4 linked regions of the Homo sapiens genome follow. The protein of the gene in region 2 purifies or fractionates together with the protein of the main gene of each other region. This does not show direct contact. Each region holds a gene or a part of one and is shown on either strand. Other genes may lie near its edges. The genes, in order: CMAS, LIMS1, RABGAP1 and PARVB.

What was found.
Region 1: the proteins of LIMS1 (region 2) and CMAS purify together in Homo sapiens (affinity purification with mass spectrometry; 3 studies listed by BioGRID and IntAct, with this or other methods). This does not show direct contact.
Region 3: the proteins of LIMS1 (region 2) and RABGAP1 purify together in Homo sapiens (affinity purification with mass spectrometry; 3 studies listed by BioGRID and IntAct, with this or other methods). This does not show direct contact.
Region 4: the proteins of LIMS1 (region 2) and PARVB purify together in Homo sapiens (affinity purification with mass spectrometry; 3 studies listed by BioGRID and IntAct, with this or other methods). This does not show direct contact.

What each region holds. Positions count from the first base shown.
Region 1 is NC_000012.12:22,041,967-22,049,229, reverse strand, and holds the start of CMAS (N-acylneuraminate cytidylyltransferase), read right to left. Parts: upstream 3,013-7,263; 5' UTR 2,927-3,012; coding exon 2,667-2,926; intron 1-2,666. UniProt on the Homo sapiens protein: Catalyzes the activation of N-acetylneuraminic acid (NeuNAc) to cytidine 5'-monophosphate N-acetylneuraminic acid (CMP-NeuNAc), a substrate required for the addition of sialic acid.
Region 2 is NC_000002.12:108,529,595-108,537,475, reverse strand, and holds the start of LIMS1 (LIM and senescent cell antigen-like-containing domain protein 1), read right to left. Parts: upstream 3,007-7,881; 5' UTR 2,914-3,006; coding exon 2,882-2,913; intron 1-2,881. UniProt on the Homo sapiens protein: Within the IPP (ILK-PINCH-PARVIN) complex, binds to F-actin, promoting F-actin bundling, a process required to generate force for actin cytoskeleton reorganization and subsequent dynamic cell adhesion events such as cell spreading and migration.
Region 3 is NC_000009.12:123,070,015-123,077,036, reverse strand, and holds part of RABGAP1 (rab GTPase-activating protein 1), read right to left. Parts: intron 6,688-7,022; coding exon 6,613-6,687; intron 5,626-6,612; coding exon of another isoform or gene 5,560-5,625; exon of another isoform or gene 5,536-5,559; intron 3,486-5,535; coding exon 3,360-3,485; intron 2,753-3,359; coding exon 2,609-2,752; intron 793-2,608; coding exon 751-792; intron 404-750; coding exon 275-403; coding exon of another isoform or gene 266-274; intron 1-265. UniProt on the Homo sapiens protein: May act as a GTPase-activating protein of RAB6A. May play a role in microtubule nucleation by centrosome. May participate in a RAB6A-mediated pathway involved in the metaphase-anaphase transition.
Region 4 is NC_000022.11:44,132,288-44,139,309, reverse strand, and holds part of PARVB (beta-parvin), read right to left. Parts: intron 6,417-7,022; coding exon 6,301-6,416; intron 2,851-6,300; coding exon 2,792-2,850; intron 1-2,791. UniProt on the Homo sapiens protein: Adapter protein that plays a role in integrin signaling via ILK and in activation of the GTPases CDC42 and RAC1 by guanine exchange factors, such as ARHGEF6. Is involved in the reorganization of the actin cytoskeleton and formation of lamellipodia.

The sequences.
Region 1 (7,263 bases), on a different chromosome or scaffold from region 2:
AAGCTATACTGTAGCAATACAAGCACTATGTTCCTCTTGCCATAGTGACTGGTTGAAGAATGAGCAGGGTACCCAATGAGGCACAATGAAACTTCGAGCTTCGAGGAGAGCACTCCTTCTGACTTACATTTAAACCTGTAAGAATATGAGGACTGCTATCAAAGACACACAAAATCGGTGACTAAAGTGTTAAGGACAGATTGTATTCTGTTACTACTGCAACAGGGAAAAGAGTCCAATGTGAATTGCATTCACAGCCCCAGAAAACGAAAGGCTGGAGACTTTAAAGGCTGAGTTGTGCTAAGGGAAAGGCACTGAGGGGTGCTAACAGGGCTTAGTCCGTGTGACTAGGCCATATGGATTTGTTAACTAGCGCTTATCTGGAAGAGAAACAATCTTCTATCCTTATGAGACAAGGCAACTGAGCAAGTTGAAGCAAGGTGTCCACTGAACTTTGCCCTTTATCTTCCCAGAGGGACTAGGAAGGAGAGTAAGAGTTATTTCCTAGAATGTTCGCATTTCACTGAGACAGGGTTCTGGGGCTCCCAGGTCCTTGAGGAAACAGTTTTGTGTGGTAGATTTACATCTCAAAAGGCAGGGAAAGTTTTTATAATTGCAAGCTTTCTAAACTAATTGCTCTAAAAGAGGGTTCAGGGGCCTCTCACCAGGTTTTTCCTGGAACAATCAGGAAATTCTGGCAGCTTTGAGCCTCTTCAGGAAGCCATTTTAAGGGAACCTGAGATCATCCTAGGGACATGGCCTTAAGCTGCTAGAAGCCATGCTAGGGCTTGGTCAAGTCTCTTGGAGCAGAGGTTTGGAGCAAGTCATTAGGTACCCTGAGAGTTCTGCAGTTCTCAGTACAACCACCTTGAAACCATAAAGGGTCTATCCAGAGCTAAGAAATTGAGGATTCTGGCAACAAAGTGCACCATCCTCTTATCCTGCTTTACTTTTTCTTAAAAATATTTATCATAACGTGATACAACACACATTAATGTTCTTGTATACTGCATGTCTTTCCTTATTATAACGTAAGCTCTATGAGACTAAGGGCTGTCTCTACTGCTACTACACGTGGTTCGGTACATACAACAGTGCCTGTTACATAGTAGGTAGGCAGTAAGTATGCTGAATGAATGAATCATTTTTTTGTCCTTGAATCTGACTGTACCTTAATAAGCCTTTCCCTCTTTTGTTATGCCAGTTTGAACAGGGTTTCCTGATATATACAACCTAAGAGTTGTAAATGGTATTAACAGTTTTGTTCTCCATTTACTGTGAATATGATTTTGATCTCTAGTTCATTTCACAAAAATGATATTTCACTATATTACTGCAGTCTGGATGCACCTACTTCTCTCAGTCCTTTTTAGTTTGTACCCTTTCTAAGAATGTAAAAATATCCCAAAGTTTGTGAGCTTCACAAGGACAAAAACTGTGTCCCAATCATCTTGGTATTCCCTTGGACATGTATAGCAGAAATTAGGGCTCAGTAAATAGCTACTGAATTGAACAAAATCCCCAGGTCCTTCCCTATCTCTCCTTCGCACACTTCCTATTGCACTAGTGTTATCTTCTGAGTGGTGGCTCCTATTTGCCTTGGTCCATCCAGGACTTCTTTTGGGTTGAAACATTAAGAAAATTAGTATATTTATACTTTTTTGGCATCTCCCGTTTTTGAACAAGACTGGTTAAATGAAAATCATTTACCCATATATTAATATGGGTAAGCAAATATAGGTTCAAAAAGAAAAAGAGATGACTTCAAAAACAGTCATCTCTTTAAAAATCGAAACATCAAAAGGTTAACATAAATTAATTTCCACAATAACAACACATTCAAATGTAGTTAGGTTGAAGCTATATGTGTAAATTCATTCTTGGCACAGAATTCGATCTCCCTTCTTTTATGAATAACATCAGCTTGTAACTCCTGACCAATTTGGCAATGTATCTAAATTACGCATAATTAAAACTGTCCATAGGGCAGGCGAGGTTCCAAAGGTATGATTAAATGATTTGTAAGTATTAATATATCATAAAACAGTCAGTTGTACACCTTCCCACTGAGTCTCACGTATTTATAAATGTAGGGAGTTTTCTAGATTGTGCTGACTCACAGGAAGATAGCTGGAGTATTTTTCAAAGGTTAGGAAAAGATCTCCAAGCTGAGCTTGAAATTCAGCTCTGACACCCCGACACTCAACTCCATTCATGAACCTGATGCCTCCCTAATCGAGCAGCACCAAGCAGTTATCAGAGGCTGAGCAACAGGGGAGCTTCGATGGCCCCCATCCAAAGAAGTTCACATATTATCACAGATGTTGCACCGGGGTGGCCTCCTTTACTTTTCCCCGTAAGGTCAACCCGGGAGGAGGGGACGGTTGGGGAGGTGTAATCTCCCCTTTTACGGATGATTCTCAAGGGCGGAGACAGGAACTGTCCCAGGTTATGACCATTGGCAGCTACGGAACAAGGAAGGAGCTGGAGCCCTTCCTCCTGGGCTCTCAGCCCGGCCCCAGGCACCCCGGATCTTGCACATCCCTGGCATGAGAGATGGCCCCCTTCCAAGAGCGGTGGCCCCGGAGGCCCCAGCCCCTCCAGCAGCCCGACTCCCTCTCCCGACCCCCGCCCAGGCCGCGCCGCCCACTCTCGCACATGCGCACCTCTGGAAGGCCCCTGAATCCAGGGCCGCACGCAGGACCCAGCCAATGAGCGGGACCCCCGCCAGGTGCTTAATGTTCTTCAGGGGGATGCCTTTGCTGCCTCCCCGGGCCAGAATTAGGGCTGCCAGGTGCGGGGGCTTCTCCACACCTCGGCCCTGGCCGCCGCGAGAGTTGCGCTGCAGCTTCGGCGGCCGGCCCCGGGACGGTCGCCCCCGCGGGTTGGAGACGGAGGTGGCGGCCCCCTTCTCCACCGAGTCCATCTTCCTCCCACGCCTTCTCCCCAGCTTCTCCACATCCGGGAGCTAGTCCCTCACCACCTCAGCTCGGCGCCGCCCGATCCCCGCCTGGCAGCTGGCGCGCGCGGCCGTCCCTCGCCCCGCCCCCTCCCCCGCCCCTCGCGGTGCTCGCTGGGAATTGTAGTCCGCGGCCGCCTCGTCTGGGGCCAGTAGGCCAAGTAGGCTCTGATGAGGTGACCCCAAAACTAAGTCAAGCAGTGGGAGTCCAGAGATATTTGGAGGAAGTGCGGCTTTTGGGGTGCTTGCAAGTGTCTGTAAATTTCTAAAATTAAAAAAGAAAAAAAGTATTTATAATTGCTGAAGAACTTCCCCACTTTAGAATTGTGGTGGGTTTCCCGTTGCATACCTTGATGCACCCTGACACGAATCCATTTTATATTTTAAAATGTACATTTTAAACATACACCTTTTTTTAATGCCCCTGGGTCATTTTTTCCAAGAAATTACTGACCAGCTCATTCAAATATCCTACAGGCGCCTTAAACTCAACGTTTTAAAAACTCCATTTTTCATATGCTCTCCGCACTTTGATCGACATCAGCATTCCCTAGCAGCAGAAATTTGGAAGTCAGCTTTACTGGTCACCTCTAGTGTGGCCGACACTTGGTTTTTTGGTTTTGTTTTGTTGTCTGCTAAAAATCTTTTCCTTTTAGGAATTGATCCCTCTCTCATCCGGTGAGGGTTTCCCTCACATTCTCTGCACTGTGTGTGACCCAAGCTGGTCCATCTACGCACCCCATTTTCCTTAACACACCTGTGGTCTAGGGACAGGCATATGACCAAGCAGAGCCCACTGGAGTCCTTTCCAGAGAGTCTTGGAAAGAAAGGATCTTTCTCGTGCTGACTGGGTGCTAAGGACCTTGTTAACCTGAAGCCTCAGGGCAAGGGTAGGGTAGGGCGGCAGGGGGGCTTTGCTGTTCTGAAATGGGCTGGAAGACTGATGTTCTCCCTGAGGAAGCAGAACAATGACATGTAGGGATTAAAGAGAAAGAATTCTGGAGGCATCATTTAAACTCTTTTTTTTTTTTGAGACAGATTCTCACTGTGTCCCCCAGAAGGCTGGAGTGCAGTGGCACAATCTCGGCTCGCTGCAACCCTCTGCCACCCATTCTCAAGCGTCCTGAGTAGCTGGGATTACAGAGGGGCACCACCACACCCAGATAATTTTTGTATTTTTAGTTGAGTTGGGGGTTTCACCAGGTTGGCCAGGCTGGTCTTGAACTCCTGACCTCAAGTGATCTGCCCGCCTCAGCCTCTCAAAGTGCTGGGATTATAGGCATGAGCCGCCACGCCTGAGCATTTAAACCCTGATCCAGCCAAGAGGCTCAAAGACATACACCCACACACACCTCTCTTAGGAAAAAAAAAAAAAGAGACTTTAAAGCAGGCATCTCTGACCTAGCATGCATTTTGTCTTTCAGCATGTTTGCAAGCCTATATTTGGAAGTAGAGTCTTTTACATTTCTGAGATGGAGGCTGATACAAACAGAAAGAATGGATTGTAGTGTGTCGGCTTGCCTTCTCCCAGAGGGCAAAAGGATTTTGTACTTCTCAGGTCTTGGCCATTTTTGAGGGGAGAGAAGAAGTCTTTGATGTTTTGGGTCCTATGAGAGGTACTGGATACTTTACATCTCTTAGTCTGTGAATTAACTGAGGGCCCAGCCCTTCCTGGGACTGGTGCTGGAAGAAGGTGCTTCGTGCAGACACAGATAAGGGAGGCTGTGAGCAGACATCAATGCCATGCTTGGGAAAGGGGCAGGCTCTATGAGCCATTCCAGCACTGAAGGGCAAGGGGACAACTTGCCCCCATACACTGGCTCTTTGAGTAGGGCCTTTGCAGTTGCTGTGCCTCAGAGACACCAGCACTGAGCTTTTGGTAGTCATGTGAGGACCCCTACTACACCCCAATAACAATCTTGATTCCTATTAATGATTTAGTTGCCCTTCTCCACAGTAATTCCCTACAGGCCCATAAATCCTAGTGGACCACAGACACCTGAGTAGTTTTGACTCCTGGGGCATATTGGTGTCCTCTAAGCTGGGAACAGAGCAAGTGGCACCACTGTTACTTATCAAATGAGATTATAGCGATTTACATAAATACCAAGAGACTTTGAACTCTTCCAGGAGAGGGACTGTTCCTTCTTTGTAATCTTCTCATCCAGAACAATGCATGGGTCACAGTACTGCTCAGTAAACATTGGTGAACTGCCTCTCATATTACTTTTTCAGTCTCTGCCCACGCATGCTTTTTAAAATATAGTTGCAAACTTATGATAATAAAGCATTTTATATCCTTTGTATGGTTACAGCACAATTTTGATTAGACCTGACACTTAGCTACTCCCAATCTTGAGAGACGGAGACAAAGGAAGAGAGAGAGGTGGTGGTAGTAGAAGGGGAAGGTGATGCATCTAGTTCAGCATATGGCACACAGAAATTTGATGAATTTTAAAAAATGAAATTAGAGTTTACTCTTTTACAATATTTTTACTTAGTCCAAAGAGAGAATGATTGTTCCAGGAAGAGGAAGAGGATGGGTTATCCTGTCTTTTTCTTTGGATTAGTTTTGAGGAACAAAATAAACTACTCTCAAAGCAAATATTCGGTCATCTTTCCTTTAAAGATCAGTATGAAGTGTTGCTGCTGAAGAATAATTCATTCGTATTTATTGTGAAAGAATATATCCTTATATTATCTCTTGTTTTATGATTTTGTATGTAAACAAACTTTGTATACAGAGGAGTCCTTTGACTCACTCATTTGTTCACATTCACTGCATTCCAAAAGCCAGGCTCTGTGCTACACGTTAAAAATACCAAACCAAGAGGTGAAAGGCAGCGAACTTAGCATTATGACAGGGAGACAGGCACACCCCAGTAGAGTGTGATTTGTGCTGTGAAAAAGTGTACATGAGGTAGGCAAGCACAGAGGGAGGTATTTAGGCTAGAGTAAAACTTTTCTTTGCTGAGATGACTCTTGAAAGATTGTTAAAGTACAAAAAAGACCTCAGCTGAGGGAATGGCATTGTGCAAGGTGCAGAGGAATGAGACTACATGATGATTTAGGAAACTTGAAGTGAGTCACTATGACTGAAGCAGAATATACTGGTTGGTTAGTGGCGAAAGATGAAAATAGAGAGGAACGCGTGGGCCAGATTACAGCACATAAAGACCTTATGTGTTCAGCTTTGTTAAGGAAGTTACAGATAGAAGGGATATAACTTGATTCACGCCATTCTTTCAACAAATCGTTATTGCATGACAACTGTGTCAGGCACTTTTCTGGGCACTGAAAATACACTGAGGTGATGAAAAGTGCTCAAATTTTCCGGATATATCTTAAAAGTATAGCTAATAGGATTTTCTGACAGACTAGGTGAAATGCATGAGAGAAACAGGAAAATTGGTGTGATTCCAGGATCTTTGGCCTGACCATTAGTAGGAGGGAGTTGCTATTAACCGAGATGGAAAGGATAAGAAGGACTAAGGTTTGGAGACAAAATTATGAATTCTGTTTTATAAATGCCATGTGTGAAATATCTATTAGCTATCCAAAGGGAAATAAACAGTGGGCTATTGAATATGTTACCCTAGAGTTTATAGGAGGGGTCTAGGATATGAATATAGCTTGGGAGTCATCAGCATTTGGGTACTATTCTCAGCCATAGGACTAGATGAGAAAGAGAGGTGATGGCAGACAGAAAAGAGAAGAAACTAGATGAGATCAGCTAAGATTGAAAAGTTAACAGAAGAGAAAACAAGTCCGAAGACTGCGCCCTGGGGGTCTCCAACACTTAGAGGTTAACGAAATGAGAAGACATGGCAAAAGAGACTGAGACAGAATGCAAAACAGAAGCCAATAGGGTACCCTGAAATCTATGCGAATAAAAGTAATGGAAGGAGGGAAAAGTGATCAATTATATCAAATGCTGTGATTGTCACTGTGAAAGTTATCAATACCAAAATGAAGTTGCTTATGTCTAACCCTAAGATAATAGAGCCAGAAGGCCATGAGGGAGGGGCACTCATGCACTATGCTTCCACCAAAAAAATACCACAGGAAATTTTTTCAAAGTGCAGCTTGCTACATGAGTCATACAATGAGAGCTAGCAGCCACACAAGGACACAAAGCTAGCCACACAAGGACAGCTAGCTGCTTGCATAAGAACACTTGCCTGTCTCCACTAATAAACAGATGTCAATTTCTGCCATAAGACTCTGTAACCAATGTTTTCTGTTTCGAAACAACTTGTATGTACTTCTTTCTCTCTCTCTCTCTCTCTTTTTTTTTTTTTTTT
Region 2 (7,881 bases):
AAAGTTGCTTCTTCCATGGTGGTCCAAGTCTTAGTTATTACATCCTACTAAAACTAGCCAAAACTACAAGGCACACACTACCACAAGCATTCAAGAGCAATTTTAAGAGAAACCTTGTATTTGTTCCTTTTTAAATATCCCCAATACCTGCATATCCTTCATCATTTAGGATTATGTCTTTAACAGTGGTTCTTAAAGTATGGCCTTGAACTCCTGAGGGTCTCCAAGACCTTTCTAAGGGATCCGAGAGATCAAAACTATTTTCATCATACTAAGATATTCCTAAGAAGTCACTGTAGCATTGTGGACTGTGTTGACACACAGATAGTGCAAAAACAACAGTCGGTACAACTGCTGGCCGCTTAGCACTAAAGAGGGCCGTGGTACTGTCCCTGAATTCTTTACCTTTATGTACTCACAGGAAAATAATGTCAATTTCACTTTTTAAGTGAAATGGTACAGTCATGCTGGAAAAAAACTGTCAGTTTCTCAAAAAACTAAACATACGATTTCTGTACAACCTGCCAATTGCACACTCTTGGACATTTATCCCAGAAAAGGAAAAGTTACATTCACATAAAACTTAGACAGGCTGAGCACAGTGGCTCTAAAATTCCAGCACTTTGGGAGGCTGAGGTGGGTGGACTGCTGGAACCCAGGAGTTTGGGACCCCCAGACTAGCCTGGACAACATGGCGAAACCCTGTTTCTACCAAAAAAATACAAAAATTATCCAGGCATGGTGGCGTGTGTCTGTAGTCCCAGCTACTTGGGGGACTGAGGTGGAAGGATTGCTTCAGCCTGGGAGGTCTAGGGTGCAGTAAGTCATGATCATGCTACTGCATTCCACTCCAGTCTGGGTGACTAAGCAAGACACTGTCTCAAAAACAACAACAAACACCTGTCTATTTGTTCGTAGTAGCTTTCTTAATAGCCCAAAACTAACAGCCTGAATGTCCTTCAAACATGTGAACAGTTAAACTGCTGTACATCCATACCATGGAGCACTACTGAGCAACAAAAAGGAACAAACTATGACATGCACAACAAATAGCGTATGATTCCACTTACATGAGATATGAGGTACCAGCAGTAGTCAAAGTCATAGACAGAAATTAAAATGATGGCTGCCAGGGACTGGCGGGAGGAGGGGAATGGAGAATTATTGTTTAATAGGTACAGAGTTTCAGTTTTGTAAGATAAAGATTTCTGGACATGTATGATGGTTACGGATGCACAATAATTTGAATGAACTTATTACTCTCCCTCCAAAAAGTAAATTACTAATGGTAAATTCAGGATGGGAAGGGGATAGGATGCGGAGAGACACTGGACCAGAGAGGTTTGAAGGTCTTAAAAGGAAACTATTATCTCCTTTATTACACTACATATCCGTTATTCTTAATATCTCACAAATACTTTAAATTTTATATCAACTTACTAGTCAATACTTTTTTTTAAGGAAAAAAGTCCATGATGAAGGAGTACAAATTATTGTTATCAAATCTTGAGCTTTGACTCTTTTTTGTTACTTGTGACCAAATGGCAGGCGTGCACTTCTGTAATAGAGCGATGAGCTGAATTAACTTGCTTGTGTCATGAAATACCATTTTTACGGGAAAGAACAACTGACAAACTAGGGTTATTTAAACCTGTATTGCCGGACACTTCCTTGAAACTGAACAAAGTGAGTCTGTCACTTTGAGGAAAACAATTGACAATATTTTGCTCCCAATGATAAAAAGCAAGCTTTCAACCGAAAATGAGAATTTTGGAAAACTTGTAAACACCACCTTGTATCTGACGGCTTTTAACATAAAGACTTTCCTAATGAAATCAATAGCGATGGTAACGAATGTTATTCGGCGCTATTAATGAAATGCGTCAGCTTGAGATCTGCCAAACTCAGTGAGCCAATATCTTCCAAACGACAAATATATGGTGTTACAATGGGTAACAGCTGCATTCAAACTGCAAGACAGACCAAGGAATTTTAACGTAACTGTGTGCAAAGGCCACTGACAGGAGCTTTAGCTGCATTCAAACTGCAAGACAGACCAAGGAATTTTAACGAAACTGTGTGAAAAGTCCGCTGACAGTAGCTTCAGATTCCACGTCCAAACCAGCCTTTGAGAAACTTCCACTTACGTAGTTTTGGTGTAGTAATAAAGAATACCCATAATTATCTGAAACAGCTATTAAGACAGTACTCACTTTTCCAACTACACATCTGTGTAAGATCAGATTTTCTTCATATAAAAACATACCGCAACAGACTGAACTGCAAAGGAGATGGGAGAACGTAGTTGTCTCTACTAAGTCAGACAACTCAAGAGATTCGCAAACTGTAAAGGACGCCAGTCGTCCCACGAACTCTTTTGTTTTAGCAAAACCCTATGTTGCATAAAAATGTGGTATGTACGTTAACATACCACGGATTTATTCAATGAGTTAATAGTAACTTCAGTGTCTCGGTTTTCCTTTCTAGTACAGTCTATGGAGATAGCCACCATTCCAGGTCCTCTAGTCCCAAGAGGGGTCCTGAGACCAAGACGTCTGCGACCCGCTGATCCCTACTGCTAGAAGATAAATGATTAGCTCGGCAAATACTGATTTGTCTTATGGAACTCTCGGAGCAGCGGGGCGGCGTCAGCGCCTGTGCCACCGCGGACACCCGGGAGTGAACAGCAGCCGTCTCCTCCGCGGGCCCGGACGCAGCCACGCCGCCACCCGAGCGCTGGGGGTCGGGGCTCCGGCCGACCGGGGGAGGCCGCGGGGAAAGCCCGGCCGCCCGCCCGCGCCAGGCCCGGCCCGGCCCGGCCCGAAGGCCCGCCGGGAGCTGCGGGGCGGACGTGGCGGGGGCCGCGCGGTGCGGCCCGTACCTGTGGGTCATCCCGGCCGCCACGCCCAGCATCTCTCCGCTTTCGGCCGCCGCCGTCTCTCAGCCCCTCGTCTCCCGGCGCCGCTCCAGCCGCGTCCTAGTCCCTCGCCGCCGCGGCCGGCTACTGGCGGGCCCGGAGCAGGAAGGGGAGGAAGGCCAGGGGCCGGCCGCGCGGGGGCGCGGGAGGGGGGGGAAGGCGAGGCGGGCCGCGCGGGAAGGCGGGGGAGGGGCGGGAGCGGCTGGGCAAGGAGGGGCGGGGACTGGCGGGGCGGGCGCCGAAGGGCGCGGACTGGAGAGGTAGGCGCGGGGGGGCGGGGCGTTGCGGGGCGGGGCGCGCATCAGACCCCGCCCCAACCCGTGGCTCGGGCCCGCCCCCATTTCAGCACCCCAGGCTAGTCTGGGAGGCTGGCGCAAACGCAGCGGGTGGCTGGGGTAGGGGCTCATTGGGAGCCCACGGAGCGCGGCGGCGGCTCGGGGGCCGAGTTCCCTACAACAAGGATGGCGGTGACGGGCGCAGGGAGCGGGGCCCGGCTCTCCTTGCCTCGAGGCTCCTCTGATTCCACTCGCGTGGCTGCGCGGCCCTGGCAGCGGCCTTCGTCCCGGGGGTGGGAGCTACACAGGGTTCCGCCCCGTCCTGGCGAGGACGCCTGAGGGGGCTCTGTGGTAAGGCTCTGTCGGGCAGGCCGGGCTTCCGGGAGGACCTGGTCTGGATCGGTCACCGCTGGGTGCCTGAGCTCCGCATGGAGCCTGCAGCCTTTGTTTAACTTGTGAGTTAAGAAAAGTTAACCTTTCTTGGAGAGTTTCCAGTCTTGCCTCTGCATCCTGTTCTTCCTTGCTAGCTCTCATTTTCTTCACCCATTCCGTCTATCAAAACCTGAAATTTTGGGGCCGGCGCAGTGGCTCACGCCTGTAATCCCAGCACTTTGGGAGGCTGAGGCAGGCGGATCACCTGAGGTCAGGAGTTCGAGACCAGCCTGACCAACATGGAGAAACCCCGTCTCTACTAAAAATACAAAATTAGCCGGGCGTGGTGGTGGCACATGCCTGTAATCCCAGCTACTCGAGAGGCTGAGGCAGGAGAATCGCTTGAACTTGGGAGGCGGAGCTTGTGGTGAGCTGGGAGATCGCGCCACTGCACTCCAGCCTAGGTAACAGGCTCCGTCCCAAAAAAAAAAAAAAAAAAAAGTGAAATCTCCAAAGGATTTAATAGATTTAATAGATAAGACAAGTTATTCATCCTGGGCATAAATGATCTCTCTCAGGATACCTGATTCTGTAACTATAGCTACTCTCTAGTAATAGAATGAAAACTTTGGTCTCCTGCCAGTCGAGGCATGTCGGAGGAAAACACTGGATCTATTTGATGTCCTCACATGAAAGTAAATTCCAAACAAAGCAAATAGTTAAATGTTCAAAAAACAAAAAAAAAAAAAAAAAAAAAGAGAGAGGTTATGAAAATACCAGAAGAAAACAAGGGAAAAAAACAAAAGTAAGGTTGGAGTGGTGAGAGACTTTTCAAAGAGCATATAAACCATAAAATTAAAAATTGATAAATGTAGGCCGGGCACGGTGACTCACGCGTGTAATCCCAGCACTTGGAGAGGCTGAGGTGAGTGGATCACCTGAGGTCAGGAGTTTGAGACCAGCCTGACCAACATGGTGAAACCCCGTCTCTAATAAAAATACAAAAATTTCACCGGTTGTGGTGGCGGGGTTCCTGTAATCCCAGCTACTTGGGAGGCTGAGGCAGGAGAATTACTTGAACCTGGGAGACAGAGGTTGCAGTGAGCCGAGATCGCGCCATTGCAGTCCAGCCTGGGCGACAGAGCAAGACTCTGTCTCTAAATAAATAAATAAAAATTGATAAATGTAACTACATAGAAATCTAAATTTTCTGCATAGCAAATAAATATAACAAACCCCAACCAAGAAAAATATTTGTAAAATGTATGACAAAAAGTTCTAAATTATTAAAAAAGTTCTAATTATTAAAAAAATCAGTACAAAAATGTTCAACTCAGAGAAAAACAGGTTTCTACAGAAAAATACAAATGATTTCTTAAAGTATCATAAAACAAAAATAAAATACAATTTTTCACAAATGCAAAGATGAAAAGTTTGACTATATATTGTTTTGATGAGGATATAGGGAAACCCTTTTTTCCTCCCCTAGAGGAGGCCTCTCTATGTTACCCACACTGGTCTTGAACTCTTGGACTTCAACTATCCTTTTGAATAGCAGGGTTTACGAGTGCACGTCAGCATGCCTGGCTAATTTATTGTTGATAGGAGTATAAATCCATACACGCTTTGTAAAGAACAAGTGGGCAATAGCTATCAATGTAAAATTCAGCTCTTCTTTGACCCAAGATATTCATATTTTGGAATTTATCTTACAAATGTATTCTTATATGTACACCAAAAGAATGTACAAATTTGGGCATGGTGGCTCACACCTGTAATCCCAGCACTTTTGGAGGTCGAAGCAGGAGGATCCCTTGAGGTTAGGAGTCCAAGACCAGCCTGGGAAGAAAAGGGAGACCCCCCTGCCTTGTCTCTACAAAAAAAAAAAATTAAAAATTAGCTGGGCATGGTGGCGTGCACCTGTAGTTCCAGCCAGCTATAATTGCACCACTGCACTGCAGCCTGGGTGACAGAGTGAGACCCCGATTCAAAAAAAAAAAAAAAAGAAAAAAGAAAGAACAAATTTTAAAGGTCCCTAGGCAACTATCTGTACACTAAATGACATCACTGAAATTTACTTTAAAATGTAGGGGTGGGGAATGTGGGTTGATAACTTGAAACTACCTCATAAATACATTACATTCTTTATATTAGCTTGTCTACTTTAGTGTATATGTGAACATTTCTGTAATAAAAAAGTTTTTTAAAATTGAAAATGGCCGCGCGGTGGCTCAGGCCTGTAATTCCAGCACTCTGGGAGGCCAAGGCAGACAGATCATGAGGTCAGGAGATTGAGACCGTCCTGGCTAACACGGTGAAACCCCGTCTCTACTAAAAAAAAAAAAAAAAAAATGCTGGGCATGATGGTGTGCGCCTGTAGTCCCAGCTACTTGGGAGGCTGAGGCAGGAGAATGGCGTGAATCCAGGAGGCGGAACTTGCAATGAGCCTGTAGCAGGATGAGCCGCAGACAAAACTCCTCAGACTCCGAGTTGAAGGAAGGGGTTTATCTGGCCGGGGGCATCAGCAAGTCTCCTGTCTCAAGGGCCAAGCACCCCGAGTGAGCAATTCCTGTCCTTTTTAAGGGCTCACAACTCTAAGGGGGTGTACGTGAGAGGGTCGTGATCGATTGAGCAAGCAGGGGGTACGTGAGTGGAGGCTGCATGCACCAGTAATTAGACCGGAACAAAACAGGATAGGGATTTTCACAGTGCTTTTCTATACAGTGTCTGTAATCTATAGATAACATAACTGATTAGGTCAGAGGTCGATCTTTAACTACCAGGCCTAGGGTGTGGGGCCGGGCTGTCTGCTTGTGGATTTCATTTCTGCCTTTTAGTTTTTACTTTTTCTTTCTTTAGAGGCAGAAATTGGGCATAAGACAATATGAGGGGTGGTCTCCTGCCTTATTCCTCCCCTTTGAGACTCTCACTCAATAGTAGGAGTTTTCACTTTCATTTTCTTATCTATGTCTTCCTGCAAGACAGATCGATAGTGATTCATTCATATAGTACACTTCTGCTGAAGCATTTTGGTGAACTAAGGTAGCGATGAAACTTTTTATCATTTGAAGAAGTACAGGTAGCAAACAAGGGAGCAGTAAGCAGGTTCCTATTACTATTATAACTTTTATTATAAGAGTTTTAAATCTTCGTAGTGCTGGGAACCATTTTCTAAACATGGCCTCAGGATCAAATCCATGCCACACTTGTACGGGCACATGTGTCAATTTTGTTATATCTGTAACTATGTCTTCAACTACTTGCCCTTGATTATCTATGTATAGGCAGTAATTAGTATGGTTAAATTTCCTACAGACCTCACCTTCAGCTGCTAGCAAGTAGTCGAGAGCTAATCTATTTCGATAGATAGCATTTCTCATCTGAGTTTATTGCCGGGCCAGAAGAGTCAAGGCTCTGCCAGTTTTATTAGTGGTTATTTTTAAGACAGCTTGTAACCGTATGATTCAGTTGATCATGCAAATGGGGGTCTGGTATCCTCACGAGCCGTCTTGTGCCTAAGTAGCAGGCCTATAATATTGCATGATTCTCTTAGGGGGCCATTTATCATGTTTTCAATTTCTTATAGCTATGCTTCTCTTTTCGTGGGAAGCATAGACAGGGAAGCCTAGGATTTCGCCTGTTTTTATGGGCAGTAGGAAGAAAGATGGTTTAATAGTGCCAGTAACACAACTACCTGCCTGCTGGTCGGGTAATTTGGCATAAGCTCTATGCCTACATATCCAGTACAATCTAGTGGGGGCTGTCCAGTCCCGGTGGGACTCCGGGTGGGTCCACACAGTTTGCAACTTTGGGAATTTACTAAATGGATTTCTCTCTGTGTGACTTGAACTCCACCAAGTGACTGTTTTTGTGGTGCCATTATACACTTTCTGTCTCAGACAACTAAGTCATCCTACGGGGTGAGTGAATTCTCTTCCTTCTCTAGCTATGCAATATTGTCCAATAATTGAGGCTTTTAGGACCTAGAAATTATCAGGGTGATTCTTTTGAGCTGGGAATTCATCAGGAACTTGGTCTGTAGGTACTAATTCTTGGGCTTCCTGTGGCCATTGATCTCCTATTACAGTTTCTCCACGTACATAACGTGAAGTGACATTGAGAGACTGGGTTACATGCTCGGCTAATTGCAAAAACAAATTTCTTGTTTTTCCTGGAATTTCTGGTACTGGCACATTTAGTTCATCATAGAAAGTTTAAAACACTGGCTTAGGAGAGCATTTATAAACTTCTCCTCGAACTAAGATGTTTACTTGAGGATCCAGTCCGGCCCCGTCGATTCTTAAGGTCACACTCTCC
Region 3 (7,022 bases), on a different chromosome or scaffold from region 2:
AATACTCTTCTATAGTTTGGCGGTTGGGGGGACAACGAGATTTCATTCGTAGGATTATAATATATAGGAAAGTATTTTGGGGAAAAAAAGGTTAAGAGTTATATAATACAGAAGAAAACATCATTAATATTATTTATATATTATAAATGTTAACACTAATATGTATTATAAATGTTATAAATATAATACATAAATAATTATGTATTATAAATGATCAGGAATAGTGAGACACTAAGTGAAAAACAGAATCTTAACTAATGCAAAATTATTTTACCTTCATGTTGCAGGCTAATTCCATTAGTTTTTTTGCATTTTCTTCTGAGCGGTATCTCTTAGGAAGCTGAACCCTAAAGAACTTCAAGGCACCTTCAAAGTCTGTCAACAGCAGGTCATCTTTCGAAGTCTTGAAGAAAATACAAACACATATAGAAAAAATGTGTTGCTATAAGGATGCACAAGAAGTTTTTTATATTCTCAGCACTTTTCAGCACTTTTACAATCCCCAGAAGATACTTCTTAGCTTTTGTCAGAGCCACCTGCATACATCCACTGTTAGGGGTAATGCTAGATTTCCAGCACTTTTATAATCCCCAGAAGATATTTCTTCGCTTTTGTCAGAGCCACCTGCATACATCCACTGTCATGGGTAATGCTAGTGCACAGTGACTGCTCAGAATGAGACTACAACCAATGTATTGCAAGTGCAGAGCAGGGAATGACAGATAACTCAGCTAATAAATAAATGAGTACCTTTAATAATCCAAGGGCGACATTAAAAATAACACTTATTCCCTGAAAGAGAACAGACAAAAAGAACACTGTCAGTTTTTATATCTCGACTATTATGCTATTTGTCCTTATACCCCACATTTTTAAAGAAATTGTGAAAACTTAAGGAAGGAAATGCATTATCTCAGAACTACCTTGAAAAATAAAAACTAAAGGGCCATTGAAAAGCTGCTTAAAGACCTAGCTTCCCCTTTTTCTGAGAGAAGAGCTTTTCTTGCCCTGTTCTCATATTCAATAATAAGAAATGCTTTTCCAAAGCATTCCATGCTTCCAAACCAAAAGATCAGTCATAAAGTTGTGATCTCTCAGGAAATAACTCCTGGGGAACTTTTCCTTTATCTTGTGCTGTCCCAATCCATGCACAGCAACCACTCTGTCGATAAGCCCTATATTCCAGAACTGAATCTGCTCAAGGCTCCCTCCATTCTGCAAATCCTGGGGCTAAGAACAAAGGAGAGGAAGCACTAACATCTGTTGATCAAGTTAAACTGCTTAAGCTGCTGGGCCTCAGTTTCCATAACTAATACTCTCCTATGGGTTTTCTGAGATAATTAGCTGAAAAGTTTATGTAAATTACTTAGCATGCCACCTGGCCTTTAGTAGCTACTTAACAGATGGTTGTTTATACTACTAAAAAGCTAGAAACAATTTAAAGGTTTGTGATTAGAAATTGGTTACATAAAGTATAGCACATCCAAATAATGGGATACTTGGCAGCAACTAAGAAAAACGGCATATTTGGTAATATTTATTTCTTCTGTTTCTTAGAATATTTCAAGCTGAGTGGTAGATACAAATTCTTTATGAATTTTTGTATGTTTTGAATATAGCATAATTAAAAAGGATAGTACAGATGTGTATGTTCAAGTATATGAAATTTAAAAAGAGGATACCAAAGAGTATAAATAACAATCATATTTTTAAATATACACATAGGAGAACCATAATATATATAGTGTTCCATCCATATGGAAACCATACTATTCTGTATAGTAATTATACATACACATATATGAACACATAAAAAAGGCTGAAAGGATACTGCTTTTAACCAAACTGTTAAAGGAGGTAACCTATAGACAGTGGGATTTGTAGTATTTTAAATTATTTTTACTTATATTTTCTATAAACATATATTATTTTTATAATTATGTTTTTCTTAAACACACCACACAAAATCCAAAATTACGTCATGGCAAAGACTGTTATTTACTCTAATATCTTATTTTCTCTTTAGTAATAAATCTCTAATTTTTAGCAAATTCCTGCTCAGCTTATTTTTTAAAAAGTCTCCCTTGCAGCTAGGTGTGGTCATGTAACTAAGTTCTGACCATAAAGTGGAAATACTGGATGGAACTTCCAGGAAGTCTCTTTTGAAAACAGAGGAGGCACCCTCTCCCATCCTCTAATCCTCCTGGCTTGAATATGATATAATGGCTGGTGTGCTACTCCTCCATACGGCTAACAGCCAGAGTGAGGGGAAGGCACGCTACTGCCAACATTGACTTTTTTTCACAAGAGAGCAAAAAGCTATTTTTTAAAATCACTGTTACTTTGGGTTTCTTCATTCAATACAGCCAAAACTAATATGAACTAATACAAATGTCTAATTCAGTACGTCTTTTCAGAGTACACCTTTAACAAATACGATCATTAGCTTTAGTCCAAGGAAGTCACTTAAACCTAGATTTCCTAGCAATAAAATAAAATAATTAAAGAGACCAATTCTGTTTTGACAGAGCTGACACTCAAAACAGAATCTGTTCTCCTCAAGTACACTGCAAACAAAAGCCAAAGTGCTGTGGCCTCTGATACATACCTCACATAAAAGCAGGTCGATGATATGGAAGACCATGTAGAGAGGGAATTTTGCAGTGAAAAGAGTAAGAAACCACTGGGAGGCATACATGTGTGCTTCAAGGCTTATATCCAGGAAGTGGTTGTACAGGTCAGGAATGTATTCCTGAAATAGCAAACCAATTAGTTCTGGGCACATATGCATCTGTCCAATTCCCACTAAGGAGGCTCATAAATCTACCAGGAATAGGCCAAAAAAGTAAAATACTTGTGTTTTTCTAAAAATCTCCAAAGTGCTTAGAACACTTATCATCTGGTATTAAGCTGGCACTCAACTCTTTTTTCCAGACCACAAACTTGTTCTAAAGAAAGAGGAATCCCCAAAATGGTGACAAGTATTTGGAAAGCCTGTTTTTCTCTCCAAAGTAAAAAACATTTGGGAAAGTTTGTTTCACTTTTGTTATGAGATTCCTAACCAGTCAGCTTCAGAGCCTTGGGGAGTACTTCTTGACTGAGTTAGCTGTGGAAAAGACCCCTAACAAAGTCATCTGATCTTTTGGGAGTTTATCAGCTCACATCCATGAGGTGTGAAAGTTTAACACTTTGTTAATCTTTGCATCATAATCACATAGTGATAAAGGATAAAAATGAAACCCATCCTTAGCCACGGATCGCTAAGGCAATTACCAATGCTCCCTGGCACCATTTCCTCAATTTGGTGCTCCTTAGTCCTGTACTCTTTTTGTCAAACACAAGCTGGTTTCTCTTTTTACCTGCATGAGGCGCTCCAACTGGTAAAATTTGCAATGCAAATCTTCGAAGTTTTGCTTGAAAAGTTCCCTGAGCCCATAGTCAAACATGATCTTGACCAGAACACTGAATGCCTGTTCTTCAGGCATCTGTAACAGATAGGCAAGTTGTTGGGTAGGGAGGATGGCGGTGGGGAATCACAAAACATACAGAAGTTTTCTCAGGATATTAAATCCAGCTTTATATTATTGCCTTACCAGAAAATTTAGTGCTATGCAGAAACTCAGGCCTAAGGTTGTGTTTAAAACATTTATTCACTCAAACAAGGAATAGTTAACAATGACTACTCTTTGTCAGTATGGTTCCTGTCCTCAAGGAGTCTCTCACACAGCCAGTATTAAAATAACTGTAATAGGAATTAGACATCAGTGATAATACAAGAACAGGAAGGCCTGTATCTGCCTAAGGCAGTCAGAAACAGACTTTGTAGAAAGGACAGAATTTGAGCTGAGCAGAAATAGGCTGATATACAGTGTAGGTGTCATCTTTCCCAAATCCTGGGACCTCTGTTTAACCATTTTTCCTCCCTTAGCTGCTATTTCATTCTAGCAAAATTGTTTTTCTTCCTCACTGTTAAAAATATAGCTTGTTTTAGAAGAACCTTACATATTCTAAGGCTTGCAGTAATGCTTGAAGTACTACAAAAGCCTCCTTCACTTCTATTTACATTTATAATAATACCTACATTTTCCATAGTTTTATGGATAATTATTTCCCTGAGAACTTGGCAAGATATTTTCAAAAGAGAAAAAAGAAGCACTGGAAATGTTATTTAAGGATTGGTGTGAATGTAGCAAGCCTTCAAAAAAGTCAAGAAGGTGGGCAGGCTTCTATGGAACAAGATGATGGAGGCGGGCTGAGCACAGAAATCACTGAGAAGAAAGCAGAACTAAAGAGCAAATCAGATTAAGTAATAAGTGAGAAAAGCATAGCAGATCATTACTGGTAAGTTAAGAGTATCTGGGGCAAAAGCCCAGATCTTTGAAGTCTTTGTCATGGAAGGCAACTTCACTTTGCCACATGCAAGGAGATGTGGCCTAACCCACAGTGGTGATTCTGATGCTAAGTAGCCCATCTCCCCTCACTCTAAACAAGCACTTATAACACTCTGGCAAGCAGCAAGAGTTCAAAACAAGACATGGAGGGTCTGATTGGAAAACCCATTTTCAAGGGGATAAATGTCCTTGAACTGAAGGTGAGAACGAAGATAAATCACCCAGGCTTGTGGGACTTTGAGATATAAAGTCTCATTAAAACAACAAAACAAAATAAAAAGTCAACCTCTTTATTCATGTCATAGCTTTATCATATTTTTACATGACTACCAATAGCAACAAGCTGGGTTCAGTTAAGAAAAACCAAAGTGGTTTTTGTTTTACTTGTACAGGTTGAGCAACCCATATCTGAAAATACAAAATGCTCCAAAATCTGAAACTTTTTAAACACTGACATGATGCTAAAAGGAAATGCTCATTGGAACACTTTGGATTTTTGGATTTGGGATGCTCAACCGGTATAATGCAAATATTCCAAAATCCAAAATCCAAAATCCACAACACTTCCGGTCCCAAGCATTTCAAATAAGGGATACTCAAACTTGTATTGCAATCTACACAAAATGGCTTAATACCCTTGAATACCTGTTGCTTAGAAAAGCAAGATTCAGACTCCTTATCTGGGCTTCAAAGCTCTCCCTAGCTCTCTCCTCAACTCCCAGTCACTCAGGATACTCCAGTCACACTGTCCTCCTTTCAGTTCCTCCCATACACCAAGTGTTTCCCCAGTTTAGGACTTCTGTATACTGTACCATTCACTTTCCCATTAACACTCTATTCTCTACTCCCTTTTCAAATAGATCTATTATTTTCATAACAACATTTTGAAAAGTTAACACAGAAAAGAGCAAAAGAAAATGATATCCCTTATCATTTTCCAGGCTGCTCCTTACAGGTCACTTCCCCTGAGAAGCCTTTAATCTAAGTAAGACTCCCTTGTTACAATCTTACACCAAACTTTTTATTATACCTTAATAGCACCACTGAAAGTAATAAATGATATACTTGTGTGATTATGTGCTTAAAGCTAGTTGGATTCACAAGCTCTGTATCCAGGAGGATTGAGACCATGTCTCTTATTTACCTCTGATCTTCAGCACAGTACAGATCATAACAGGTACTCAAAACTCTTTGCTGACATCACCTGTGTGGTATTCTTGCCAAGCATTTTAAACTGAATCATGAGAAAATGAGACAAATCAAGACTGTGGGACATTTTATATGACAATTTGTCTGAATTTTTCAAAACTATCAATGGCATGAAACACAAAAAAAGGCAAAGGAGTAATTTAGATTAAAAGAATAAAGAGAAATGACAATTCAATATTTGAATCTTCATTAGATCTTGATTAGAAAAAAAGCTAGATTCTATGGAGTAGACAATTGGGAGAAAATTGAATGTGTATTGTGTATCAGACATTACTGAATCAATGTGGAATTTCTTGGATGTGATCATGGTATTATGATTATGATACAGAATTCTGTGCTCCCAGAAGGCATATATATGATCAAGTATTTAGAAGTCTTGATGTTTGTTATTTACTTTCAAGAATAATTTCAAAAAACAATTTAAGTAAAAAAGAAAATGTGTGTTTATGCAGAAAAGAGAAAAAAAGAGATGCAGAGGGAGACAAACAGAAAAAGCAGTGTGGAAAATATTAATTGGTAAACTAGATAAAGACTGTTCACCTTAACACTGTTTAGAGTTTTCTGTGGATTTGAAAGAAAATAAAAAAGGTGGAGGGCAAAGGTGTTTGCTAAGCCAATGAATGAATAAAATGGTACTAAAAGAAAACCAACTTTTCCGCCTTCCTCCTACCCCAATACCTAAATCTCAAAACAAGTATTAATGACAGCGGCTACTTTAGAGAAGATAAAACGTCCCCAAGAGTTCAACCAACATTAAAGTCTCTCCAATCATCCTATTAATAAAAAGGAAGTCTACCCCTGTACCAGTTTTCAACATTGCCGTTTATTCTCATCATATATCTCCTCCACAATGACATTAAGTTAATTTAAGGAAAAAGTTTCCAGCTATAGGTGTTAAAATTCATGCCTTAAGAGTCTGTCCAAACCCAATATAAAACCATGCTCAAGCCTAAGGTTAGTATAAGCTGAGGGAGGCCATGTGTTAAGTCATAACAGAGACCTAATTACTCACATGGAGAAGGAGCACAGCAGCAAGAAATGACTGGCCCTGGCAATAACCAATCTCTTCATCATACACAGAATAAGCCTGGAAAATAAAACACACAGAGGAAATGTAAATGAATGTAGCCACTTGTGGGCCATGGTGGCACTATAGGACCTTGAATACAGAACCCTGGAGGATGCTACCCACACTGGGACAGCATTTTGACAGACAGTAAGTGGTGCCAATACTTCTCTCCAATCTTAACTTTTTCTTTACAATGAATACAGCTATCACCACTGCATTTCCTGTGGCGAAGGAGTAGGGAAGATTAAGGAAAAACCACTTCTGCGCTAAAAAAAACTTCGTATTTCCTTGTTGTTGTTCATGATGTTCCCTCTCCTTGGGATGTCCTTTCCCTCTCTGCCTCAAACATGCAC
Region 4 (7,022 bases), on a different chromosome or scaffold from region 2:
TCGCTAGAGCCTGGGAGGTCAAGACTGCACTGAGCTGGGATCGCACCACTGTACTCCAGCCTGGGCAACAGAGCAAGACCCTGTCTCAAATAAATAAATAAACAAACAAACACACACACAAGGTTGCAGGTTACTCATGTTTCCAGGAGTAAACACAATGTACTTGCAGGACTTGTGGAACTAAAGGATCCTGGAGAACCACGAGGCCAGGCCCTGATCTCAGGCAGGCGGCAGCGGAAGCAATGGGGGAGACGGGAGTGGTGAGCAGCTTCTCCTCAAAGATTCCCAGTGAGTGAGTGCACAGATCCTTTCCATGCACTGCCTTCCTGAGAGGCAAGGAAGTCTTTACTTTGTCCCCAAATCCCTCTAGGCTCAAGTCCTTTGGCTCCATCTTATTTAACAAGCACTTACTTGAGTACCTACTATGTGCAGGCTGTGCAGATACAGAAATTAACATCCCCTGGAGATAAACACTATGTGGCCCTGCCCTCAGGATGCCTGGGAGTGACAGACCTCATAAGCCAATATTTCAATGTTGGCCACATGTGTCCAGAGGCTAAGGGAACTAACAGGAAGCCAAGCACTCCTGCTTGGCAGACAGGAGGGCTTCCTGGAAGGGGTGACCTCATAGCCACCTCTTGAAAGAGAAAGGGGAACACTGAGACTGGATAGGAGGTGGCAATGCTGCCTTAGGAAACTGAATGTGGATCTTTGGGCCGCTGGTTTTCAGCAGACATCCAATGATTCAAATGTTCCGTCAGAGCCTCCGCAGCCACGGGGAGGGGAAGGAACAGGAGACAAGGATGGGATGACCAGCCCTGAGGAGAACCTACCTGGGGCATCATCCTGGAGAGGTGACCCAGCCTCTCCTTTACCCTGACCCTGGCTGGCAGAGGGACACTGACTCAGGCTAGAAAATCCCAACTCCCTTCCTCACTGCTCAGGGCCATCTGATATCTGATTGAGGTGGCTTTCACTGAAATCTCCCCTTCCCTGACTTTGGGGTGCTCCCCTCCTCCTGGAAATTCCCTTAGGGCCCCGAGGCACTTCCCACAAGCCCCTGTGTTAGACTGTACATGTCTGTGGATGCATCCTTTCTCATCAGCAGGATGGGTCGCCCTGGAGGAAAAGAACTGCACTCAGCCCACCTCTCAGTGTCTCTGTTGATCCAGCAAGGAGGCTGGCATGCAGCAGGTCCTTGGGGCCACTTACTGCTGATGAATAGCTGAGACAATTCTCCCACCCACTTGCTCATTCTCTGTCTCTGGACCATTCTAGTTTTATGGCAGGGGGCCCAGCTCCTCCTTGCTGTCCTCATATGGGACCCCCTCACCTAGAGGGGAACTCCTATCACAGCATGCCCACCACCCAACAATGTGCACAGGCCATTCCTGCACAAGGAGGCAGAGTCTGTTTCCTGCACCTTGATCCAGGATGACCTGTGACTCACTTTGACTCACAGAATTGAGGACATAGGTATGGATGTCCAAGACAAGGCCTCAAGGGGACTGCAGCTGCATTCTCACTCTCTCAGGACCCTGAGAGCACCCTGGGAAGATGCCCAGCACTGTGAGGAGGAAAGAGACCCAGGGGAGGCCAACACCAACCACCAGAGGTAGGGGGAGCCCATCTCAGCCTCCCCAGCCTCCATCCAGCCTTCAGATGTCTGCATCATATGAGCAACCCCAGGCGAGACTGGCTGAACAACCGCCCAGCTGAGCCCAGCCTAAATTGCTGACCCACAGAATTGTGAGCAGCAAATGAAACAGATGTTGTTTTAAGCCACTTGACTTTGGGGGTGATTTGTTACACAACAATAAACAACTAAGACACCAGCCCAATCCCAGTTCCCCACGAGCAGCCCTTCTCCTACTGCTGAATAGGCAGAGCTGCTGCCAAAGGCCCACTGTGCTGGGCAAAGAACCACATTCTCATCCTCCCCTTTTCCAGCTCTCCCTGTTCCCTTCGTGGGCCTGGGGCAGACTGGGAGGCCTCTTCATGGGCCTCTGCACATGCATCAGCCTGCACTCCACTGTCCCATCATCTTCCCTGAGAGCTTGCAAGCCACGAGTGGTTTCCTGTGTCAGCTCCAATTTTTGAAATACCATCCATGAATTCACAACACAGTAATTAATCACTCTGTGAACTTAGCTGATGGATTAGCTGAGACAATCAATTTTTAAATGTTCTGTTTCATCTGAAACAGGTTTAGTCAAGAGGCACAAATGCAGTGAATTCTAAAGATTCTTAGCAGGTTATCACAAGGAGTCCTTAAAACCACATACCACAGATACTGTTTGATTTGCTATTTTCAATAGATTTGAAGCCTTTTAGACTTCTGAACACCTGCCCTCTGGCTTTCTCTAGGAGATAACAGATGGCTTAGTAGTGTCTGTCAAAGGAAAGTTCTGGTTTAAAGATGTAGCTCCCACCTCTGATGGGGCTAATGTAGATGGATAAATGAACTGAGACAATGGTTCTCTCTAACCATCCTGAACTCTCTCTGCCTGCCCCACTTTGCAATGTTCTTACAGCTCACCTTTTAAGATAGGAATGAAAAAATTCAAAGTCTGTGGAAGGTAACTCAGTTCTAATGTTAAAAACTCTGAAGAAAGTGTGCAGAGGGAGGAGAGCTGGGGTGGGAACCAGCATGAGAATCACATGCTACAGAGAAGGGGTGTGGAGCGGGAGCAGCCCCATGGGCGCTGGTGTCCCTGGCTGAAGTGGCAGCCTGGGGTCCCACTCACTCGGGGCAGCAGGGCCTGGAAGGGCAAGACAGGGGTCCACTTACTCTGTAGTTGTGGTCAGCTCCTCCGAGATGTGGCTGGAATGCAGCAGGCCTTCCCGTTTCTGAAAACCCCAAAATAAACATACAAAATCAGGCAGTGGAGAGTTGAGGAAAGATGCACTGACAGGGCAGACGAAGCTGCGGGGCCGGAGATCATCTTAGAAAAGAGCAACAGGAGAAGGAGGGGTGGTGTTGAACACGCATGCCAGGCCTGGGTGAGTACACAGCAGGGGACCCTGGGCAGGGTGCCTTTCAGCGACCACAACCTGTCCCTATCCTCCTCCCCACCCTCTGGTCTCCACGTGGCCTTGAGAGTTGGCATTTGTGTGGGTCTCAGGAGAAACACCCCAGGTCAGGATTCCCCAAAGGGATCCTCTATGCTTTGCAGCCAGGAGAGGTGAGGCATGCAATTGGAAGGAACATAAATAACAGGGAACATCCCCTGCAATCATGTGTGTGCACGGGACTGAAGAGGGTCCCCCAAAGTTCATATCTACCACAAACTTCAGAACATGATCTCATTTGGAAATAAGGGTCTTTGCAGATACTAGCTCAGATGAGGTCATCATGGATTATGGTGAGCCCCTCCTTAATCCAATATGGCTCACCTCCTTATTAGAAGAGGAAACAGACACAGAAACAGACAGAGGGAGGAGGCCATGTGATGACAGAGGCAGAGACTGGAGAGATGTGGCCACAAGCCAAGAACACCAAGGACTGACAGCCACCACCAGAAGCTGGAGGAGGCAGGAAGACCCCTCCCCTAGAGGAGGAGACATGAGGGAGGACATCCTACCCTGACAACATCTTGATTTCAGACTTCTGGCCTCCATAATTGCGAGAGAATAAATGTCTGCTGTTTTAAGCCACCTGGTTTGTGGTACTTTGTTATGGCTGCCCTAGGAAACTGACACAGTATATGTCACACTTCTCCCAGAGCGTGGCAGGTATAGAAAAGCAATGATGGCCGGGCACAGTGGCTCACAGCTGTAATCCCAGCACTTTGGGAGGCCAAGGCAGGCAGATCATGAGATCAAGAGATTGAGACCATTCTGGCCAACATGGTGAAACCCGGTCTCTGCTAAAAATACAAAAATTAGCTGGGCGTGGTGGCATGTGCCTGTAATCTCAGCTACTTGGGAGGCTGAGGCAGGAGAATCAGTTGAACCCAGGAGGCAGAGGTTGCAGTGAGCTGAGATTGTGCCACTGCACTCCAGCCTGGGTGACACAGTGAGACTCCATCTCAAAAAAAAAAAAGTAATGATGGTAGTGAGGGGGGCATGGCAGTGGTGATGGTAGGGGTGGCAGCCCGCCTGTCACAGGAGCTCCAGATGGAGCCTGGGTGGCTAATCCAACCACCACTGAACCCCTCAAGGGACTGGGAACTCATTTCCCGCTGGGCCAGCCCACAGTGGACACCACCAAGATCTGGGCTTCCATCCCTTTCCTGAGTTTGACCTCCATGGAATACTCAGGGTTGGTGCTTGTTATTGAACAACAGTGTGGGTGACATTTATCCTGATTCTCAGGAGTGCCTGCCAAGGAAGGTCCAGACATTGTGTTCACCTAGTCAAGGATCAAACATGCCTGAGGCACCCACCAGGTGCTGGGCCCAGGTCTAGGATTGTAGACATGAAGCTGGATGTTTTACAGGTTTGTAGTAAAATCTTGGTTTTATGGGGAAAAGCATTGCAGCTCAGCAAAAGCAAGTGATCAGCCCAAAGCCACGTGGCCAGGCAGTAAATAAGGCCCTTTCCTTCCTTCCTTCCACCCTGGAAATGCCACATCCCTTACACCAACCATTCCATCTGGGGTTAGATAAGGGGTCCCCTGAGCAAGCTCAGAGGCCAGGGGGCTGCAGAGAAGACAGAAGGCGGCTCTAAGGTCTGGGGAGTAACTGCGCCCGGTTCACAGGACCCCCTGCTCCCGTTTCATTCTGCTTTGGTCGTGGCCAAACAACACTCCTCTAACCCGTTATGGCAGGAAGCACCAGCAAGTGCTTGCCTGGTTCAAACTTTCTGCAAACCGCAAAGATTATCTTGGACCCAAGTGCAAGCCTGAAAGGAAATACTCCAGTTTCTGAGCCTGCACAGGGCTCCTGGGGCCCCGAGCTGACGTAGGTAGGCTTGGGAACCACATCCCAATGTGTCCTAGGGAAGCCTTTTCAGGCCGGCTGCCTGTGAACCAGTGGCCAAGACACGGGGCCATAGGAATGGCCCCCCAGGTCCCGAGTCACCACCACCAGCCACAAACATCCTCCTTAGGAAGGAAACATGGACACATGGCAGGTGGCCCTTGCCGGATGCCAGAGAGGAGCATTCCCGTCCGGTCAAGACTGAGCTCCCAGGGTAACAGAGGGGCCAGAATGGGTTCGGAAAACACAGTGACAGCCAGGTCCTCCCCGACCACAGAGACCACGGGACTGAGAAGTTTAAAAACCAGAGGAAAGTGGAGCCGGATGTCTCGAGTAAAATAAACACAGAGGCATCCAAGGTTCCGAGCGTGACCTCAACTCTGGCCGCAGTGGTCACCCCCACAGACGCCAGGCATGTGTTCCTCCTTTAGTGGCTCGGCAGCCTATGCTGAGTGCTTAGAGAATAGTAGGCGCTCATTGCACATTTACTGAGGGAAACTGCACACACGAACCCTAGGCAGCGACTGTCCACTTAAATGTAAGGGAAATAAGGCCAGGCATGGCAGCTCCCACCTATAATCACAGCATTTTGGGAGGCTGAGATGGGAGGATCGCTTGAGCCCAGGACTTCGAGACCAGCTTGGGCAACATAGCGAGACCTTGTCTCTACAAAAATTTGAAATTAGCCAGGCACGGTGGCATGTGCCTGTAGTCCTAGCTACCTGGGAGGCTGAGGCGGGAGGACCGCTTGAGCCCAAGAGGTTGAGGCTGCAGTGAGCCATGACTGCACCATGGTACTCCAGCCTGGGCAACAGAGTGAAACCCTTTCACAAAACATAAAATAAAATAAAAAATAAATGTAAGGGAAATAGCAAGAGAAAGGTAACTCTACTTCACCCTCTGTTAGAAGGACCTGGGTTCTGGTTCCATTTCTCCAAGTGAATCAAGAGAAATGAACCCAAAAAAAGAGATGATGGGGCATGATGAATAATCCCCAACGAATGCAAAGCGGCTTTAATTTGGGTGTCTGTTTCATCCCGCGGGGCCAACCTCCTCCAATGAGTAATAAGCACATTCAAGGGGATTGAATTCCAACCAGTTGGCTTTGGAGAGAAATGAATGTTCTTTTCAAAAATGTGGAAAATTAAACCTCAACACCCTCATGCCTCTGCTTCTGCCTCTCATCAAATCAATGCCATTGTTCCCGTTCCAATCATTTATCTCGGAGCCAGGGTGAGACACACATTTTGTCAAAAGGGAAAAATAGAAGGTAGCCTCCTGGGGGGAAAAAAGGAGGGGGAGGGCAGGAAAACTGCAGGAGGAAGATGTTGCCTCTCTGGCGGAGTTACAGGCAGGCCGACCACTCGGTTATACTCACCCGCACGACCACCACCTGCACCGTTACATGCTCAGGAAGGCGGATGGGGGCCCTGAAGTGCATGGCCAGAGAGACCAGCAGGTGGAGGATGGCCACCAGGTTCTTCCCGTGAATTGCTGCAGGAGGAAGGAGGAAGGGAGACGCTTTAGATCAGGTTACACAGGAACCTGAGCCCACGTGCAGAAGGCAACAGAGACACAGCATCTAAATGAGACCCCAGCGAGACAAGGATGGAGCGAAGTGTGGACAAATCAAGAGAGCTGATGAGCAACCTGGTGAATTTACTTCTAGCTTCACTGTCTCCTTTCCTGTTGGCCTAAGGTGACTTGTGCAACCACTTTTAGAAGCACAATGTTTTTAAAAGCAATAAATTGGGCAGTGATGAGGGAAAGGAACAGGATAGTAAAATTAGCACAGAAGGGAAAAGAGCATGGAAAGCAGGTCACGGCCACTTACCCATCACAAGGATGTGCGTTATTATCTCTGGCACTAAAAAAGGGCTCCCTCTCCGCAATGAACCATCCCAACAAGGGTAGGCTGCCAAGAGCAGAGGCCACTCTGGGGACATTAGACATTAGCCCCTGCCTTGCCTGAGTCTGTCCTCTCTCTTCCTCAGCATGCGGACTCAGGTTTGGTCAACATCACCACTTCTCCTGCAGGGTTTTACAGTTTACAAGGCACCCGATTCCCCACCCACGGACCCAGCCACCCACGAGACAGCC